2 separate regions of the Homo sapiens genome follow, and region 1 is linked to region 2. The links come from fine-mapping of genetic effects on gene expression. Tissue or cell type: whole blood. Region 2 holds a variant in brackets; the other region holds the start of a gene. All regions are shown on one strand. Distances are between the middles of the regions. Region 1 holds the start of TOR1B (torsin family 1 member B). Region 2 holds the start of TOR1A (torsin family 1 member A).

The links. PIP is the estimated chance that this variant, and not a neighbour inherited with it, causes the effect.
Region 1: it holds the start of TOR1B, and the variant in region 2 is fine-mapped to the expression of TOR1B in whole blood (INTERVAL, PIP above 0.99). The same link has a PIP of 0.9 or more in nasal epithelium.

Annotation. Positions count from the first base shown.
Region 1 is chr9:129,798,087-129,807,706 of GRCh38, reverse strand. TOR1B (torsin family 1 member B) reads right to left here and starts at 4,523. Exons shown (of 5, transcript NM_014506.3): 1 at 4,296-4,523; 2 at 3,369-3,634; 3 at 344-519. The coding sequence starts at 4,494. RefSeq lists silencers at 4,134-4,253, 4,314-4,443.
Region 2 is chr9:129,820,657-129,830,276 of GRCh38, reverse strand. It overlaps TOR1A (torsin family 1 member A), which reads left to right and starts at 6,141. Exons shown (of 5, transcript NM_000113.3): 1 at 6,141-6,369; 2 at 7,431-7,696. The coding sequence starts at 6,192. C9orf78 (chromosome 9 open reading frame 78) reads left to right here. Exons shown (of 9, transcript NM_016520.3): 7 at 736-872; 8 at 974-1,072; 9 at 2,025-2,987. The coding sequence ends at 2,116. RefSeq lists silencers at 1,933-2,227, 6,667-6,756 and an enhancer at 5,947-6,256. The variant T/C (reference allele first, on the strand shown) is at 4,275.

The sequences.
Region 1 (9,620 bases), 23 kb after region 2:
GCCCGGCTAATTTTTGTATTTTTAGTAGAGACAGGGTTTCACCATGTTAGCCAGGATGGTCTCGATCTCCTGGTGATCCGCCCGCCATGGCCTCCCAAAGTGCTGGGATTACAGGTGTGAGCCACCGCGCCTGGCCCAGTGATTATTTCTTTAGTTCATTTCCACAACCCACACTGTGTGCCATGCTGAGACTGGCAAAGGAAAAGTAAAGCAGTAGGTAAGTGCCTTGTGCCAAGCAGGCACTTTCGTCCTGGTAAACAAAGTGCTGATGGTCCTCAGGACCTCATTTTATCATTGAGAGAATGAAGGGCTTGTGTGCCCCAAAAAACCGCCTCCCGCTGACCTGAGAAAGATGAAGATGGCTTTGCGGTAAGACACTCCGTCAACCTGCTCGTAGTAGTCTAGAAACGGCTTGATTGCGTCAATGATCCCGGGGTGCAATTTATCCATCTCGTCAAATATGAAAACAGAGTTCGCACATGCACTCACATTACCGCGGATCCACTTCTGTAACTGGTCCTGGACCAACCATGAAAGAAGAAACAGGATGCGAAGCTCAAAGGGTGCACCAAGAGGCGCGCAGGCTCCATCTGCTCCTCATGCACTGAAGGACGAGGTCAGAGCTCTTAGAATGGCACCCTCACCCCCACTCGCTAGGTAGCAGCTTTTCTAAAACCTTATCTCTAAAAAGTGGAAATTGGCAGAGATAGATGCTAAAATGCAGAGAAGTTTTTTCCTAACTCAAATGACTATTAAATCTGACTTTTTAAAGGTATAAGAGGTACAAGATCCGTGATTCTTTTCTTCTCTTTTTTGTCTTTGGAAACAGGGTCTCACTCTATCCCCCAGGCTGGTGTGTAGTGGCGTGATCTCAGCTCACTGCAACCTCTGCCTCTTGGGTTCAAGCGATTCCCCGGCCTCAGCCCCCCGTGTAGTTGGGACTACAGGCGCCCCGATCCCCTGCACCATGCCTGGCTAATTTTTGTATTTTTAGTAGAGACAGGGTTGTGCCATGTTGGCCAGGCTCGTCTCAAACTCCTGACCTCAGGTGATCCACCCACCTCACCCTCCCAAAGTGCTGAGATTACAGGAATGAGCCACCCGGCAAGATCCGTGAATATCATTCACTGCTAACGTAGCCATAGTTTTCATCTCTCTTGGACTACAATCTCAAGTTAGTACTATCAGACATACTGAGGAATAAGGAACTAGATCAAGACCTGCACAGTACACAGTGCCCCAGACCAACAGAGCTGACTCAATGACATTTCATGAAAAGCATCTGTTCCAGATGTTTTCTTCAAACAAACATAAAGACACTCAAGCAACAAGCCCTCAACCCCAAAGCGTGAAAGGCTATACCAGGAAACTCCCCCAGACATGCCCTCAACCATTTATATTACTCTGTTTCCGGAGATTTATGAAGAATGTAAAGAACAAGAAAATCCTTCCTTCCTTCCTTTTTAGCAGTCTTCCCTGTCTCACGTCAGTTTGTTGGGCAAACACTTCTACTTCCTTGTTCAGTTAAGTTTCTATTTCTTTCTTCAGTCCCCACCTAACAGGAGGAATTTTTTTTTTTTTTTTTTGAGATAGAGTCTTACTCTGTCGCCCAGACTGGAATGCAGTGACATGACCATGGTTCATTGTAGGCTCAGCCTCCCGGGCTCAAGCGATCCTCCCATCTCAGCCTCCCAAGTAGCTGGGACTACAGGTGCATGCCACTACACCTGGCTAATTTTTTTATTTTTTGTAGAGATGGAGTCTTGCTATGTTGCCAGTGGGAATGTTAACCTTGACAAGGACAACATTCATTTAAATGAGAACTAACCCTCCTAGACAACTTAATATAAAATGAATGTGGAAACAATATCTCAAAAGGAGAAACAGTCTCAAGGTTCAGTTCTTTGAGGCTTCCTTTGAAGAAAGCAATGCCAAGGACATGAAGGATGGGAGGAACAAAGGGAATAAAACCTGTTAAGGAGAAAAAAGACCTCTAGGCTACATTGCAAAGAGCAGAGGCAAAGCTGAGGCTGCACCAGAGGTGGGCAGCATTGAATGAAGCCACACCGGAGCAAATCCTTGAAGACTGACTGCCCCTTCTCACCAACTGCACTGCTGGGGATGTGGAATCCCTTCACTCACCAGAGAAGGTGGCTACCATGTCAACTGGGAGTTGGGAGGTTTTGGTTCTGCTACAAAGGTCCTGTTCTGCTACAAAGATTGTAGGAGTAAGTCACCTTGCCTCTGGGCTCCAGGCTCCATCTTTTTTTTTTTTCTTTTTTTTTGAGACAGAGTCTCATTCTGTTGCCCAGGCTGGGGTGCAGTGGCCCATTCTCAGCTGACTGCAACCTCAGCCTCCCAAGTAGCTTGAATTACAGGCGCACGCCATCACGCCCGGCTAATTTTGTATTTTCAGTAGAGACGGGGTTTCTCCATGTTGGTCAGGCTGGTCTCGAACTCCCGACCTCAGGTGATCCGCCCGCCTTGGCGGATCCCAAAGTGCTGGGATTACAGGCGTGAGCCACTGCACCTGGCCCTGACTACATCTCTCTTTTTTTTTTTTTTTTCTGAGACAGAGTCTCACTGTGTCGCCCAGGCTGGAGTGCAGTGGCGCGATCTCGGCTCAGTGCAAGCTCCGCCTCCCGGGTTCAGGCCATTCTCCTGCCTCAGCCTCCCGAGTAGCTGGGACAACAGGTGCCCGCCACCATCCCCGGCTAATTTTTTGTATTTTTAGTAGAGACGGGGTCTCACCGTGTTAGCCAGGATGGTCTCCATCTCCTGACCTCGTGATCCGCCCCCCTCGGCCTCCGAAAGTGCTGGGATTACAGGCGTGAGCCACTGTGCCAGGCCTTTTTTTTTTTTTTTTTTTTGAGACCGAGTACGGTGGCGCGATCTCAGCTCACTGCAACCTCTGCCACCCAGGTTCAAGCGATTCTCCTGCCTCAGCCTCCCAAGTAGCTGGGATTACAGGTGCGTGCCACCGTGCTCAGGTAATTTTGGTACTTTTAGGTAGAGATGGGGTTTCACCATGTTGGCCAGGCTGGTCTCAAACTCCTGGCCTCAAATGATCCGCCCGCCTCGGCTTCCCCAAAATGCTGGGATTACAGGCGTGAGCCACGGCGCCAGGCCCTTGGCTCCCCATCTTTTAATGGAAATAACATCCCCTACCCCACTGGACTGTTTTGGAACCAAGTAAGAGAAATGTTGTAGGAGAGCTTTGTAACTACCTGGACTAAGTGTGCCTTAACTCAGTGGAGCCGGGGGCTACAGCAACACAAAGGAAAGAGAAGCAGAGGCCAGAGTTAGTGAGCAGGTCACCCGGACCAGTCCGACTGGCCTGCAGACGAGATAATAGCGGGTTCTCTTGCCTGGTACAGTTTTATCTTCTGCTCATGAGGGAAGTGCAGAGTCGATACAAACAGGTGGACAAAGTTACTCTTCAGACCTTTTGGGTGAAGATTTTCAGCCACAATTTGACTGACAAAATTCTTGCCTGTGCCAGCCCAGCCGTGTAAGGAAAGGGTCAGTGGTTTCTTGGGATTTTTGTTGTTCCTGAAGCCAGTCAGCGCCTTGAAAATCACTTCCGTGGCTAGATGCTGTCCAAACAGCTTCTCCTCCAAATCCAGCTTGAGAGCTGCAAGAACAGCCCCAGAACAAAGAGAGAAACAGACCTTAAAAATGCATCAGCAACGCAGCACTTTCTTAGCTGGCCAAAGCAAGAAGCACAGATTATCCAGGGACACAGCAGGGTGTCTGCCACACCCTAGGGCCGAGGCAGTCAAACGATGCCACTTTCAAGATTATGTGGAGGTCCTTAACGCTTCGGGGTCTGATAAGGAAGCTAAATGTTCATTCATTCAGAGATGAACCATCGCTTGACTGAGCGCTTGCTAATCCCAGCCACCCTTGCTGACCTGCAGGAAAACCAGGGGCCAAATGTGGGCTTTCTGGGCGACGCAGCACGTCTGAAAACTACTTAATAGGGTTGGCAGGGCGCAGAAGGGCCGCCCGCCTACTTTCCGTTTCTTCCACCTGTGATCCCAAGGAACGGGAGCTTTAGAAAGGCGCTGGGGCAGCCCCACGATCTGGAGACTGTTTGCGAAGGCACCGCTTCTGCGTTCCCGCGAACGGTTCCGGGGCCGCCCCATCCGCTCCCCGCCCACCCCAGCTGGGACCACCGCCGTCTAGATGCCACGGGCCCGGTCCGTGCCAGGCGCCCACGAGGCCGTCCCTCCGCGCCCCCGCGCCCCCGCGCCCCCCGCAGCGCCGACCCACAGCTCGCGCGCGCGCCGTACCCGAAGCGTTGAGCGGCCGCTCCTCGCGGCAGCACTCGGCGAAGCGGCAGTAGATGTCATTGTAGGACAGGTAGCCGGTGATGGCCGACGCGGCCCCGATGGCTAGGCCCACGGTGATGGGCTCGAACGCCGCCACCACTCGGGCCGCCAGCAGCAGCGCCAGCGCCGCCGCGCCCCGGAGCCACCCAGCCCGCAACATCCCGCTCCTCGAAGCCCGCAGAAGCCACTGAGCCAGGCGCCCCGCGGCCAAGCGGCAGGACGGACTTCCTCTCGTGCGTCACTTCCGCCCCGCAGACCCGCCCACTCCCTTGGGGGCGGCCATGTTGGTGAGGGGCGGAGAGGAGGGCGGTGCCATCGTTCTTGGGAGTGGTCCGAAGGTGTAGGAGACTGTTTTGTTTCCCTTTTCTTTTAAAAAAATTTTTTCGGGCCGGGCGCGGTGGCTCACGCCTGTAATCCCAGGACTTTGGGAGGCCGAGCCGAGATCACGCCATTGCACTCCAGCCTGGGCAACAAGAGTGAAAAAATATCTAAAAAAAAAAAAAAAAATTTTTTTTTTTTGGCCGGGCGCCGTGGCTCACGCCTGTAATCCCAGCACTTTGGGAAGCTGAAGCGGGCGGATCACCTGATGTCAGGAGTTCGAGACCAGCCTGCTCAACGTGGCGAAACCCCGTCTCTACTAAAAATACAAAAAATTAGATGGGTGTGGTGGCGGGCGCCTGTAATCCCAGCTACTCGGGAGGTTGAGGCAGGAGAATCTCTTGAACCCAGGAGGCGGAGGTTGCAGTTAGCCGAGATCGTGCCACTGCACTCCAGCCTGGGCGACAAGAGCGAAACTGTCTCAAAAAAAAAAAAAAAGGCTGGCCGGGCGCGGCGGCTCACGCCTGTAATCCCAGCACTTTGGGAGGCCGAGGCAGGCGGATCACGAGGTCAGGAGATCAAGACCATCCTGGCTAACACAGTGAAATCCCATCACTACGAAAAATAGAAAAAATCAGCCGGGCATGGTGGCGGGCGCCTGTAGTCCCAGCTACTCGGGAGGCTGAGGCAGGAGAATGGCGTGAACCTGGGAGGCGGAGCTTGCAGTGAGCCGAGATCGTGCCACTGCACTCCAGCCTGGACGACAGAGCGAGACTCCGTCTCAAAAAAAACAAAAAAAAGCCAAAAAAAATTTTTTTAAACTTTCTTATATTTTTTTCTTATCTGATATGTATATTGGGGACAGGGTCTGGCTCTGTCGCCCCGGCTGGAGCGCAGTGGCAGGATCTCGGCTCGCTGCAAACTCTTCCTCCCAGGTTCAAGCGATTCTCCCATCTCAGCTGCTGGAGTAGCTGGGATTATAGGTGCCCGCCAACACGCCCAGCCAACTTTTGTGTTTTTAGTAGAGACGGGGTTTCGCCATGTGGCCCAAGCTGGTCTCGAACTCCTGACCTCAAGCGATCTACCTGCCTCCGTCTTCCAAAGCCTGGGGTTACAGGAGTGGGCTTATGGCTGGATTTGTTTTCTTCAGAGCTTCTCGGAGCCCTCAAGCTTTGCTTTGTTATCCCTCCCTTCACTTCGCCGGAGGTATAATGTGCGTTTCTTGGGTCGGCCCACCCGCCTGCCTTCTTCCTGAAACAGTTGCGAACTCTCCGTGCTGCGCCCTAGACTGAGCACTGGGGATGCAGCGGCCCCAAGACAGACCTGCCCAGGCTTCCACACTGAAATCCCGAGGTCCATTCTTTCATTCAGCACGCTAGGTGGCAGGCCCCTTGCTGGATGCCAGGAACGACAGCAGAGGAGGGGACGGAGTTGGCCCCTGCCCTCTCAGAGCTGACGGTCTATGGGGGAGGCCGACAAAGGGGTGAGACTCAATGCTGAGTGGGCAGAGAAGTATCGGACAGTGGTACAGGGAAGGCTTTTGTCTAAGCTGGGCACTGAGGGAGTTAGGCCAGGCAAAAAATGAGTAGAGTGTTTTAGGCAGAAAACAACAGTCAGTTTGGAGAACTGAAAGGATTCCACATGGCGGAAGGTGGTGAGAGATAGGGATGAAGAATCAGGCAGAGACTGGAAGGTGAAGTCCTTGCGAATGTTGTAAGGAGTTTGGCCTCTGTTCTGGGGGGTAATAGGGAGCCACAGAGGGTTTTACACAGGAAGCAACATGGTCAGATCAGAGATCATTCTGGCTGCTGGGTTCACAAGAAATGGAAGGCAGAGAGCCAGTGAAGAGGCTGTTGCCGTGGTCCAGGTAACTAGTCAGGGAGACAGATGAGCAAGCAGGCAGCTTATGTCCAGGGTGGGCCAAGGCTGTAATGCAGGATGCACAGAGGCCTGTGGGTGGGGAGGGATCTTCTCCTCCCTATCTCAGTTGCGATCTAAAGAATGAATGGAAGGGCCAGGTGCACTGGCTCATGCCTGTAATCCCAGGACTTTGGGAGGCCGAGGCAGGCAGGTCACCTGAGGTCAGGAGTTCGAGACCAGCCTGGCCAACATGGTGAAATCCCGTCTCTACAAAAAATACAAAAATTAGCCAGGTGTGGTGGTGCGCGCCTGTAATCCCAGGTACTCGGGAGGCTGAGACAGGAAAATGGCTTGAACCCAGGAGGCAGAGGTTGCAGTGAGCCAAGATTGCGCCACTGCATTCCAGCCTGGGCGACAGAGCAAGACTCCGTCTCAAAAAAAAGAAGAAAAAAAAAAAGAATAGAAGTTGGCCGTGGGAAGTGGCTTAAACTTTTTTTTTTTTTGAGACAGCAGCTCACTCTGTTGCCCAGGCTGGAGTGCAGAGTGCAGTGGCATGATCTCAGCTCACTGCAGCCTCTGCCTCTTAGGTTCAAGCAATTCTCCTGCCTCAGCCTCCGAGTAGCTGGGATTACACGTGTGCATCACGATGCCCAGCTATTTTTTTTTTTTTTTTTTTTTTGAGATGGAGTCTCGCTTTGTCACCCAGGCTGGAGTGCAGTGGCATGATCTCCGCTCACTGCAACCTCTGCCTCCTGGGTTCAAGCCATTCTCCTGCCTCAGCCTCCCCAGTAGCTGGGATTACAGGTGTGCACTACCATGCCCATCTGTTTTTAGTAGAGACGGGGTTTCACCATGTTGGCCAGGCTGGTCTCGAACTCTTGACCTCGTGATCTGCCCACCTCGGCCTCCCAAAGTGCTGGGATTACAGGTGTAGCCACCGCGCTCGGCCTACTTTTTGTAGTTTTAGTAGAGATTTAGTAGAGATGCAGTTTCACCGTGTTGGCCAGGCTGGTCTGGAACTCCTGACCTCAAGTGATCCGCCTGCCTCGGCCTCCCAAAGTGCTGGGATTACAGATGTGAACCACCACTCTTAGCCCACAAACTTTTTATAAGTAATTAAATAACTAAAAGTGTATGGAAAATGTATCTCTTAATAGGATGGTTGGGGTTCTCTTTTTTTTTTCCATTTACTTCATATATCCATAGGAAGAAATTACTAAGTGACTTTTCCCCTTTCCAAGTAGCCAGAGTCCAATGGGAAAGGGGAAATGAGAAGGAGCATGGGGCCGCTGGGGCCACCGGTGCCATACCCAGGGAGGAAAGAAGAAAGAGGTTGAGTTTCTGGAATTAGGATCCTTAGAGTGATCCACTCTTATGCACCCTTAGGAAGTCTTCACCTACCTCAGAGGGTCACATACCCCAGGCTGAAGAGGCCTGGCCTAAGGCAGGAAAGTCCCACCACAAGGAATGTCACCACCACTGCCCGAAAGAGTCAGGCTGTCCCGGCATCTCTCCAAGGGCCGTCTAACAAGCAGCCTGGCACCCAGGGCCATGCTGTCTGTCTAATTGAAATGCTTCTCCAGCTGACCCTGAGGACCAAGAGGCTGCCTTGGACAAGTCCGGTGTGTTCATCAGGGCGCAGCCACGTGGGACAAAGGGGCAGCTCTGCTGTCTCCAGAGGCTTTGCAGCATCAGGAGTTGGGAGGGAGAAGAGGAGGTTGGGATTATAAATCACAACCTGGTTTGTTCCCTTTCTTCCTAGCTGAGTGGCTCTGGAAATGTGATGCCACCTTTCTGGGACTCAGTTTCCCTAACTGTAAAGTGGGGATCACAACAGTCCCTTCTTGGAGTTGCTGGGGTACCAGTGAGCTGATGCACGTGGAGCACTTAGCACCGCATAGAGTAAGAGTTCAACAGGAACCATTTGCTGGGACTATCACCTCCTTTGACCCTCTCAACCATCCTGTGAAGTTCACAAGTCAGGAGAGACAGTTTAGCTCACAAAGGAAATGTTTGTTGTCTTTAAGGATTATACCGGGGTGCTGGCAGGATTTGATGAGTGGTGTTTAGATAGATCTGGAATTACAAAACTCAGTAACTGATATTCATCAAGCAAAATACACACGATGTCCTGCAAGACACAAGTGGATTGGTGCCATGGTTAGTCTCCATTGTGGTGGTCGTAAGAGGTGGAGCCTTTTTCGAGGTGATTAGGCCAAGAGGGCTCTACCCTCATTAATGGAATTCATACCCTTATAAAAAGGGCTTGAGGATGGGCGCAGTGGCTCACGCCTGTAATCCCAGCACTTTGGGAGACCGAGGCGGGCGGATCACAAGGTCAGGAGATCGAGACCATCCTAGCTAACACGGTGAAACCCCATCTCTACTAAAAATACAAAAAATTAGTCGGGCATGGTGGCATGTGCCTGTAATCCCAGCTACTCGGGAGGCTGAGGGAGGAGAATCGCTTGAACCCGGGAGGCGGAGGTTGCAGTTAACTCAGATCATGCCACTACACTCCAGCCTGAGCGACAGAGTGAGACTCCATCTCAAAAAAAAAAAAAAAAAAGGCTTGAGGGGCTGGGCACAGTCACTCACGCCAATCATCCCAGCATTTGGGGAGGCAGGTGGATCATTTAAGGCCAGGAGTTCAAGACCAGCCTGGCTAACATGGTGAAACCCTGTCTACTAAAAAATACAAAAAATAGCCAGGTGTGGTATCGGGTGCCTGTAATCCCAACTACTCGGGGGGCTAAGGCAAGAGAATCACTTGAGCCTAAGAGGTAGAGGTTGCAGTGAGCCGAGATCGTGCCACTGCACTCCAGCCTGGGCAACAGAGCAAGACTGTCTCAAAAAAAGGGCTTGAGGGAACTAGCTCGACCCTTCCACTTCTGCCTCGTGAGGACACAGCAAGAAGGCACCATTTTGGAAGCAGAAGGCAACCTTCACCAGGCACCAAATCTGCTGGCATCTTGATCTTGGTCTCCCCAGCCTCCAGAACTGTGAGAAATAAATTTCTTTTTAATTGTTTTTTCTTTTTAAAAAAATTTTGGCCAGGCGTGGTGGCTCATGCCTGTAATCCTAGCACTTTGGAAGGCCTCGGCAGGC
Region 2 (9,620 bases):
TTTAAAAAAAAAAAAAAAAGGCCAGACATGGTGACTTGTGCCTGTTATCCTAGCTCTTTGGGAGGCCAAGGTGGGAGGATCACTTGAGCCCAGGAGTTCAAGACCAGCCTGGGCAATGTAATGAGACCCCATGTTCTTATCTGTGTCCTTAGAATCCTACAAATACAAATGAGATTGTCCCTGGCAGGTTGTTGCTAGAAGTTTCGCTGAAGGCTTGATCAGAGTAGTAAGGGCCCCTGACTGCTGGAAGCAAAAGTGGTTCTTTAGCGTGTTACAGCTGTTCAGCTGTATCAGGCCCTTTATTCTTCTGTTTTCTTCTAGCAGGAGCCATGTTAAAGGCTCACTCACCCCTTCTCCCCATGATCCTTCTTAAAATATCCACTTTAAAAGGGAATTGTTATGGAAGAGGTACAATTGTTAGAATAATCTTCTGGTACAGTAGAAAGCTGGGAGGCTTCTGGGCTCTTTTCTGGCCTTTACAAACTTTGAGCCTTAAGCATTTTACTTCTCTGAAGCTCAATTTGCTCTTGATCAGAAGAGCAGAGTAACTGTGGTTCTCCGACAGCCGTGAGAGTCCCGTGAGAATGTGACTACAAGTGTGCTTGATAAAGTGGAGAGCTGTGCCCCAGGACACATGATTTTCTTATGTACTGCTGGGCTGCCAGCCTCACCACTCATGTCTGAGTAGTAAGGTGCTATCATCTTCTAAGTGGTGTGGTTTCTTTCTCTCCATAGTGCTAAAATAAAAAATATCATTTCCACGGAGGATGCCAAGGCCCGTCTGCTGGCAGAGCAGCAGAACAAGAAGAAAGACAGCGAGACCTCCTTCGTGCCTACCAACATGGCTGTGAATTATGTGCAGCACAACAGATGTAAGCCCCTCGGAGAGCAGTCTTGCCCCCATTCCCCTATTTGGGCTGAGATCCCTAGGAACCTCATGTTCTAACGTGTCCCCTGGTCTCTTTGGGTCCAGTTTATCATGAGGAGCTCAACGCGCCCATACGGAGAAACAAAGAAGAGCCCAAGGCCCGGCCCTTGAGAGTAGGTGACACGGAGAAGCCAGAGCCTGAGCGTGAGTGCAACAAAGGCCTCGGGGCTGCCTGGAGTGCTCAGCAATGTGGGAACCCATGGAGGCAGGATGCAGCGGGGGACAGGGTGGAGCCTGGCATTGGAGCCGGGGCATATGGGTTCCAGTCCATGCTCTGGACCATGACTATGTGCCTTCCCCTTTCTAAGCCTCAGTTTCCTCATTGGAATCCTAATAGAACCTACCTGTTAGGATTACTCTGAGAATTCATACTCTCTCATATTCTCACGCACAGTAGAGACTCAAGAAGTTAGAAAATTTCAGTAAGGACAAATAAAAGCTACTCATAAGGTTAGCTGGGTGCAGTGCCTCACACTTGTAGTCTCAGCTGCTGGGGAAGCTGGGACAGGAGGATTGCTTGAGACTAAGAGTTCAAGGCTGCAGTGAGCTATGATTGGACCACTGCACTCTAGCCTGCGTGACAGAGTGAGACCACATCTTTTTTTTAAAGAAAAGAAAAAGGTATTGGCCATGCTCGGTGGCCCATGCCTGTAATCCCAGCACTTTGGGAGGCAGAGGCAGGCAGATCACCTAAGGTCAGGAGTTCAAGACGAGCCTGGCCAACATGGTGAACCCCGTCTCTACTAAAAATACAAAAATTAGCCAGGTGAGGTGGCAGGTGCCTGTAATCCCAGCTACTCAGGAGGCTGAGGCAGGAGAATCACTTGAACTCGGGAGTTGGAGGTTGCAGTGAGCTGAGATCATGCCATTACACTCTAGCCTGGGCAACAGGGTGAGACTCCATCTCAAAAAAAAGAAAAGAAAAGAAAAAAAAAAAGACAAATACGTATCTACTGAGGCCCTACTGTGTTCACTGGGTTAGGCGCTGGGGCTCCTGTGGGGAAGGAAACAGGCAGTTGTCTTTGCCTGCATGGAGTAAAGTCTAGCAGTGGGTTCCAGCATGGCAAACCACCTTTCCTGTTCTTTTCCTTCTCAGGGTCCCCTCCTAACCGCAAGCGTCCTGCTAACGAGAAGGCAACTGATGACTATCATTATGAGAAGTTCAAGAAAATGAATAGGCGGTACTGAGTTGTGCAGAGTGGGATGTAAATATCGCCTTCCTCTCCCTATATCCCTCCCATGAAAAATGGCTTCCTGGCCGGGCGTGGTGGCTCCTGCCTGTAATCCCAGCACTTTGGGAGGCCGAGGTGGGCGGATCACCTGAGGTCGGGAGTTTGAGACCAGCCTGACCAACATGGAGAAACCCAGTCTCTACTGAAAATACAGAAAAGTTAGCCAGGCGTGGTGGCACATGCCTGTAATCCCAGCTGCTCAGGAGGCTGAGGCAGGAGAATTGCTTGAACCCAAGAGGCGGAGGTTGTGGTGAGCCGAGATTGCACCTTTGTACTCCAGCCTGGGCAACGAGCAAAAAACTCTGTCTCAAAAAAAAAAAAAAAAAAAAAAAAGAAAAAGAAAAATGGCTTCCAGGACAGAGCATGCTCATTTGCTGGCGGACAGTTCCAGAAACAGACCCTGTTAGTCCTTCTACTTACCTGCTGGATTTTTCAAGCACTAAATTTATAACTTTTTGAAACAAAATAATGTGTAATTTTCCATTTGGGGGCAAACTCTATTCTTGTGAGCATTATTAAATCTTGTTTGTAAATATATTGTCTTTCTCTTAATATTTGCTCTGGGTCAGGAAGAAGCTGTTCACGGTGTGATAATACTCTTTAGATTGTGCTTTCATTATTATAGATGCATCATGTCTTCTGCTTTCACGTGTCTGGGATGGGGTCAGAAATGCATCCTCCAGCTGACAGAAAAATCCAGGATGAGATCAGAAGGATACTGGTGTTTTCTGACTTTTACAAAATTACTTGTTTGTTTTCATTAAAAAAAAAGCATAAACTATGTTTCTTATTACTATTAGAATTATTAAATTTCAAAATGAATCCAACCTTATTGTTTGTATTATGTTTCTTATACCAGCATCAGGTAATGTTTTTAAAGCCCATGGTTTGGGTAGCCTAAATGTAAAACTGAATTACTGAGATGGATTTTCTCATTTATTTCAAACAGTGAGCTATGATTGGACCACTGCAGCATAGACATGCTGCAACCTGCTGTCAAGTACCTTCTTACCTGTGCCCTCATTTTTCCTGAGGCATCCACAGGGGTCCAAAAGAGGAAAGAGCAGATTGGCTGACTTCTGGGTGGATTTAGAGCAGGTATTGTGGTTACAGTGGTTTGGCCCAGGAGTCAGATCTGAGCCCACCTCGCAGCTTACTACTTGTGTCCTTGGACAGATCCTTTTCACTCTTAGCCTCAGTTTTCTCATCTGTAAAATGGAGATTTTTTTTTTTCCTCCACTTGAATATGGTCAGTGAAGGCAGGAACCATGTGTGCCTAATTTTTAAATTTGAATCCCCAGGGCATAGCCCATAATCTGACAGATAGGCAGTCCTCAAAACTATGAATGATCCCTATAGTGTTTGGCTTGTAACAGGTGCACAAAAGTATTTTAAATCCAATACGAAAAAGTCGAAACTTAAAAAATATTTTCAGGATATTTCAACAAACATTTACAGGTCCCAGCGATGTGCAGGGGTAACCCAAGATGAATACTAAAGGCCTAGCACATCTGGCACACAGCAACGCAACACGTGTTTATGGGATGAACAGGCAAATAAGTGGATGGTCAACAGTTCTCACTTGCCAGAGTTCCCTTTGCTAGAAAATGAGTAATCTTTTATCCAGCTTAAAAGTGGCTGCCAGATGGAGGGAGCTGGTTCTCTCACTGTTGGGGTGGGAATTCACAGATAAACAAGGGGAGGAGGCTCCAATGATCTGTGTAATGGATTAGAGTTGGAGATGTCAGCACGAGCTCATGTTTAGCTTAATATAGGTACAGATGTTTACCTATAAAAATATTTATAGATATGTGTGTGTTTAACAGTATATACACACATTTTTTTCTGTCAGCTGAGACTGAAAGAAATGACATCTCAATAGCAAGAAGCACACCTAGCACCCAGACCTTGGTTTCTCTTTTTTTTTTTTTTTTTTTTTTTTGATACGAAGTCTCGCTCTGTCACCCAGGCTGGAGTGCAGTGGTGCGATCTCGGCTCACTGCAACCTCCACCTCCCAAGTTCAAGGAATTCTCCTGTTTCAGCCTCCCATGTAGCTGAGACTACAGGCACACGCAACCATGCCTAGCTAATTTTTTTGTATTTTCAGTAGAGA[T/C]GGGGTTTCACCATATTGGTCAGGCTGGTCCCAAACTCCTGACCTCAGGTGATGCACCTGCCTCAGCCTCCCAAAATGCTGGATTACAGGCATGAGCCACCATGCCCAGCCAGTTTCTAATGCCATTTTACAATGAAAGGAATCAGGGTTCCTCGTAGAAAATAGGATTCTAGGACTGGGGCAGGAAATACAAGATGAGCCCGGAGTATCCTGTAGTGTCAGAAAGGAAAGAGGCACTCAAACCCAAATAAGCTGGTATATACACTGGGTGTATGTCAAAGGAGCACAAGGAACCACTCAAATTCCCAGTGGCCAAAATGAGAACAATTTGAAAAAAAAATTAGTACTGTAGTATAACAAAGGATAAAATAACAATGGTCCACACTGATATAAATGATTGAATACATGGGGGAGAAGAAACAAATCTCCCATGCAGAATTCCAAATAATTTCTGTAGATACTCTGCCCCCAAGGAGGTGGAGCAAAATCCCCGACTCCTTACGTGTGGGCTGTGCATGGGGACGTCCTTCCAAAGAGTACAGTAGAGAAAAGAGGGGTGGGGGGACCTGACAAACACTACTTCAGTCAAGTGATCAAGTCAGCACCAACAGTGGTAAGTAACGTTGAACAGTAAGAACCCTTCCTTGGTAGGATGTGATGAGCATAGCACTTTACCTCTGTGATCTTCCTTCCAAAACGCCATAACGCTTGTCTAATCCTGAGAAAAACATCAAATCCCAATAGAGGGCCAGCCCACCAAAGATTTGGCCAGTACTCCTCAAAACTATCAAGGTCATCAAAAATAAAAAGCTGAGGCCAGGCGCGGTGGCTCACGCCTGTAATCCCAGCACTTTGGGAGGCTGAGACGGGCAGATCATGAGGTCAGATCAAGACCATCCTGGCCAACATGGTGAAACCCCGTCTCTACCAAAAATACAAAAATTAGCCGGGCATGGTGGTGTGTGCCTGTAATCCCAGCTGCTCAGGAGGCTGAGACAGGAGAATCGCTTGAACCTGGGAGGCAGAGGTTGCAGTGAGCTGAGATCATGCCACTGCACTCCAGCTAAAATAAAAATAAAAGGCTGAGACACTGTCATTAACAGTAGTCTAAGACATGACAACGAAATATAATGTGGTATCCTGAATGGAAACCTGCAGCAGAAAAAGGCATTAAGTAAAAGGAAGGAAATCTGAATAAACTACACTTTAGTTAATATGACAACAGTGCATCGTTAATTTTAACAAATGTAGCACACTAATAATGTAAGATTTTAGTAATAGGGGAAATTGCAGGGATGGGTGGCACATGGGAACTCTCTACTATCTTCTCAATTTTTCTGTAAATCTGTTCTAAAAAATAACGTCCGTTATTATTATTATTATTATTATTATTATTTGCGGGGAGGGGACACAGTCTTGCTCTGTCTCCCAGGCTGGAGTGCAGTGGTGAGATCTCGGCTCACTGCAATCTCCGCCTCCTGGGTTCAAGCGATTCTCATGTGTCAGCCTCCCCAGTAGCTAGGGCTACAGGTGCCTACCACCACACCCGGCTAATTTTATATTTTTAGTAGAGACGTGGTTTCACCATGTTGGTCAGGCTGGTCTCGAACTCCTGACCTCAGGTGATCCGCCCGCCTCAGCCTCCCAAAGGGCTGGGATTACAGGCAGGAGCCACCATGCCTGGCAAAAATAACGTCCATAAACAAAAACACGTGGCCAACAGGGGCGGAGCAGAACCGAGTTTCCGGAAGCAAAACAGGGCTTTGTACCGAACAAAGATGGCGGCCGCCGGCGTCGGGAGGAGGGCTGCCCTGAAGAAAGATGGCCTCCGCGAGAGGAGGAACCGGAAGCGTGGGTCTGGCGGCTGCACCGGTTCGCGGTCGGCGCGAGAACAAGCAGGGTGGCGCGGGTCCGGGCATGAAGCTGGGCCGGGCCGTGCTGGGCCTGCTGCTGCTGGCGCCGTCCGTGGTGCAGGCGGTGGAGCCCATCAGCCTGGGACTGGCCCTGGCCGGCGTCCTCACCGGCTACATCTACCCGCGTCTCTACTGCCTCTTCGCCGAGTGCTGCGGGCAGAAGCGGAGCCTTAGCCGGGAGGGTAGGCTGGGGCGGGGGCTGGAGGCTGGGGCTGGGGCTGGGGCTGGGCGATGGCACTAGGGCTGAACTAGGACCAGGGCATGGAGAATGGAGGATGGAGGCCGGGGGATGGCACCAGGGCCGGGCTAGGACTAGGGCTGGAGCGGGGCCTGGGGGCTGGGGCTGGGCGATGGCACTAGGGCCGGGTTGGGGCTGGGGCTGGGGCTGGGGGATGGAGCGGGGCCCGGGGGCTGGGGGTGGGGCTGGGGGATCGCACTAGGGCTGGGTTAAGACCAGGGCGGTTGGCTGGGGCTAGGGGATTGAGGATGGTGGATGGAGGCTGGGGGATGGCAGTAGGGCCGGGCTAGGACTGGGGCTGGAGCGGAGTTTGGGGGCTGGGGCTCAGGAGCGGGGGCTGGGGCTGGGGCTGGGGCTGGGGGATGGCACTAGGGCCAGGCCGGGGTAGGGGTCACATCCCAGGAGGGCCGGGCCTGGGCAGAGCTGAGTCCGCGGGGGCCGGACCCCGGAAGCCAAGCGGCCGGCCTGCAGGATGAGGCCTGGCTCCTCGGCCATGACCACAGACGTGCCAGACTTAAGTCGGAGACCTGAGGAGCCAGGCTGCAGGTTGGCCTACTTTGCGCTAAGCTGGGGGTGGACCAGTGGTAACCTCCCTCCGAAGTGGGTTCTGCCTCCTTTCTAGCCTAGCGGGAGACAGGAAGGATGGTGAGGACTCTTCCGCAGCCGACCAGGAGGGACCAAACTGTTTCCTTTCCCGGCTCTGCCTTGGGGTGGGAGGAGCAGCACAGGGGTTAGGGGTGCAAACTGGTGGCAGTGGCAGTGGCACCAAGGGGCTTTTCGGGAAGGAGTCGGGCCAGGGCTTTAGAATAGGCAGGACCAGCAAAGGGAGGGCTCCCTGGACCGCCGTCCCCTCTGGGCCAGGAGCTTACAGACCGCAGTACTTGAGGTTTCGCAAGGTGCTTGGAGGGCGTCTAGACGGCTTTGCTGGCTTTCTTATGGGCTGTAAATGTGGCTACATTTTGCCGCTGTTTCTTCCCCACTCCTGATTGGCTTTGTCTTTCCCAGCACTGCAGAAGGATCTGGACGACAACCTCTTTGGACAGCATCTTGCAAAGAAAATCATCTTAAATGCCGTGTTTGGTTTCATAAACAACCCAAAGCCCAAGAAACCTCTCACGCTCTCCCTGCACGGGTGGACAGGCACCGGCAAAAATTTCGTCAGCAAGATCATCGCAGAGAATATTTACGAGGGTGGTCTGAACAGTGACTATGTCCACCTGTTTGTGGCCACATTGCACTTTCCACATGCTTCAAACATCACCTTGTACAAGGCAAGGATGGAAGTTTGGAATCCCTTCCTGGATGTCATCGGGTTTGGGGTCTCTTTGTTGTGGGATGAGATTTGGGAGTTCTATGTTGAAATGAGTGAGCCCGGAAAACGGTTCATGTCTCAGTTCCCCTTGGAAAGGTGTAGAAGTTAAGAGTTTGAGATGCGTGGAGCAGTTAATACCATCAAAGCTTTGTGGTGGGTTCTGAAAATCGGTCCAGTGAGTATGTAGGGTCATGGGATTTTAGAGGTGGACATGATCAAATCCATCTTAGAGATCAACACATCTCACTCATTTTTTTATTTTTTTCTTTATTTTGAGACGGAGTTTCACTCTTCTTACCCGGGCTGGAGTGCAATGGCATGATCTCAGCTCACTGCAACCTCTGCCTCCCGGTTGAAGCAATTATCCTGCCTCAGCCTCCCGGGTAGCTGGGATTACAGGGTCCTGCCACCATGCCCAGCTAATTTTTGTATTTTTAGTAGAGATGGGGTTTTGCCAACTTGGCCAGGCTGGTCTCGAACTCCTGATCTCAGGTGATGTGCCTGCCTCAGCTTCCCGAAGTGCTGGGATTACAGGCGTGAGCCACCATGCCTGGCCACATCTCACTCATTTTGTGAAAGAGGAAACATGTAGAGTCCTAAGTTTGTTGAACCTACTGTTGTAAACTGCCTTTTTTTTTTTTTCTTTGAGTCAGGGTCTCACTCTGTTGTCCAGGCTGGAGTGCAGTGACGCCATCTCAGCTCACTACAGCCTCCACCTTCCCGGTTCAAGCGATTCTCCTGCCTCAGCCTCCCAAGTAGCTGTGACTACAGGCATGTGCCACCACAGCCGGCTAATTTTTGTATTTCTAGTAGAGATGGGGTTTCCTCACATTGGCCAGGCTGGTCTCGAACTCCTGACCTCAAGTGATCTGCCTACCTCAGCCTCCCAGAGTGCTAGGATTACAGGCGTGAGCCACCTTGCCCAGCCGCAAACAGCTTTTATGGTTGAACTCACTGATGAGCAGCTTGGGCTTTGGCAGCAGACACATCTGGATTTGAGTCCTAACACTCTCCCAGCTCCGTAGTCTTAGGAAAGTTGCCTGACCTGAGACTCAGATTCTGACTTACAAAGTGTTGCTTGTAACAATCCAGGGAGCTCTGTCTGTCAAGTGCATAACATGTACCTGGTGCATGTTACAAATAAATGTTAACTGTTGCCTTTTAGATCCTTGTAGCAGACCTGCAAGATGGGCAAAACAGTCAATTATTTATTTATTTATTTTTGAGACTGAGTTTCATTCTTGTCACCCAGGCTGGAGTGCAGTAGCACCATCTGGATCTTGATCTCGGCTCACCGCAAACTCTGCCTCCCGGATTCAAGTGATTCTGCTGCCTCAGCCTCCCAAGTAGCTGGTATTACAGGCACCTGCCACCACACCCAGCTAATTTTTGTATTTTTAATAGAGACAGGGTTTCACCTTGTTGGCCAGGCTGGTCTCAAACTCCTGACCTCAAGGTCATCCAGCTGTCTCTACTTCCCAAAGTGCTGAAATTACAGGTATGAGCCACCATGCCTGGCCTCAATCAGTTATTTATCCCTGACTGTATCTATGGAAAAATGTGAACACATTTTTCCCTTCTGTCTGGGTGAGCGTGTGGGTCACCCACTGTCCAGCGGTTCTGTACTAAAATGCGAATGTTCCACGGGTGTGGTGGCTCATGCCTATAATTCTAGCACTACGGGAAGCCAAAACCGGCTGATCCCTTGAGCTCAAGAGTTCCAGACCAGCCTGGGGAACATGGTGAAACCCCATCTCTACTAAAAAAATACAAAAAAATTAGTCAGGCATGGTGGCATGCACCTGTAGTCCCAGCTACTTAGGGGGCTGAGGCAGAAGGATGGCTTGAACCTGGGAGGTCGAGGCTGCAGTGAGCAGACAGCC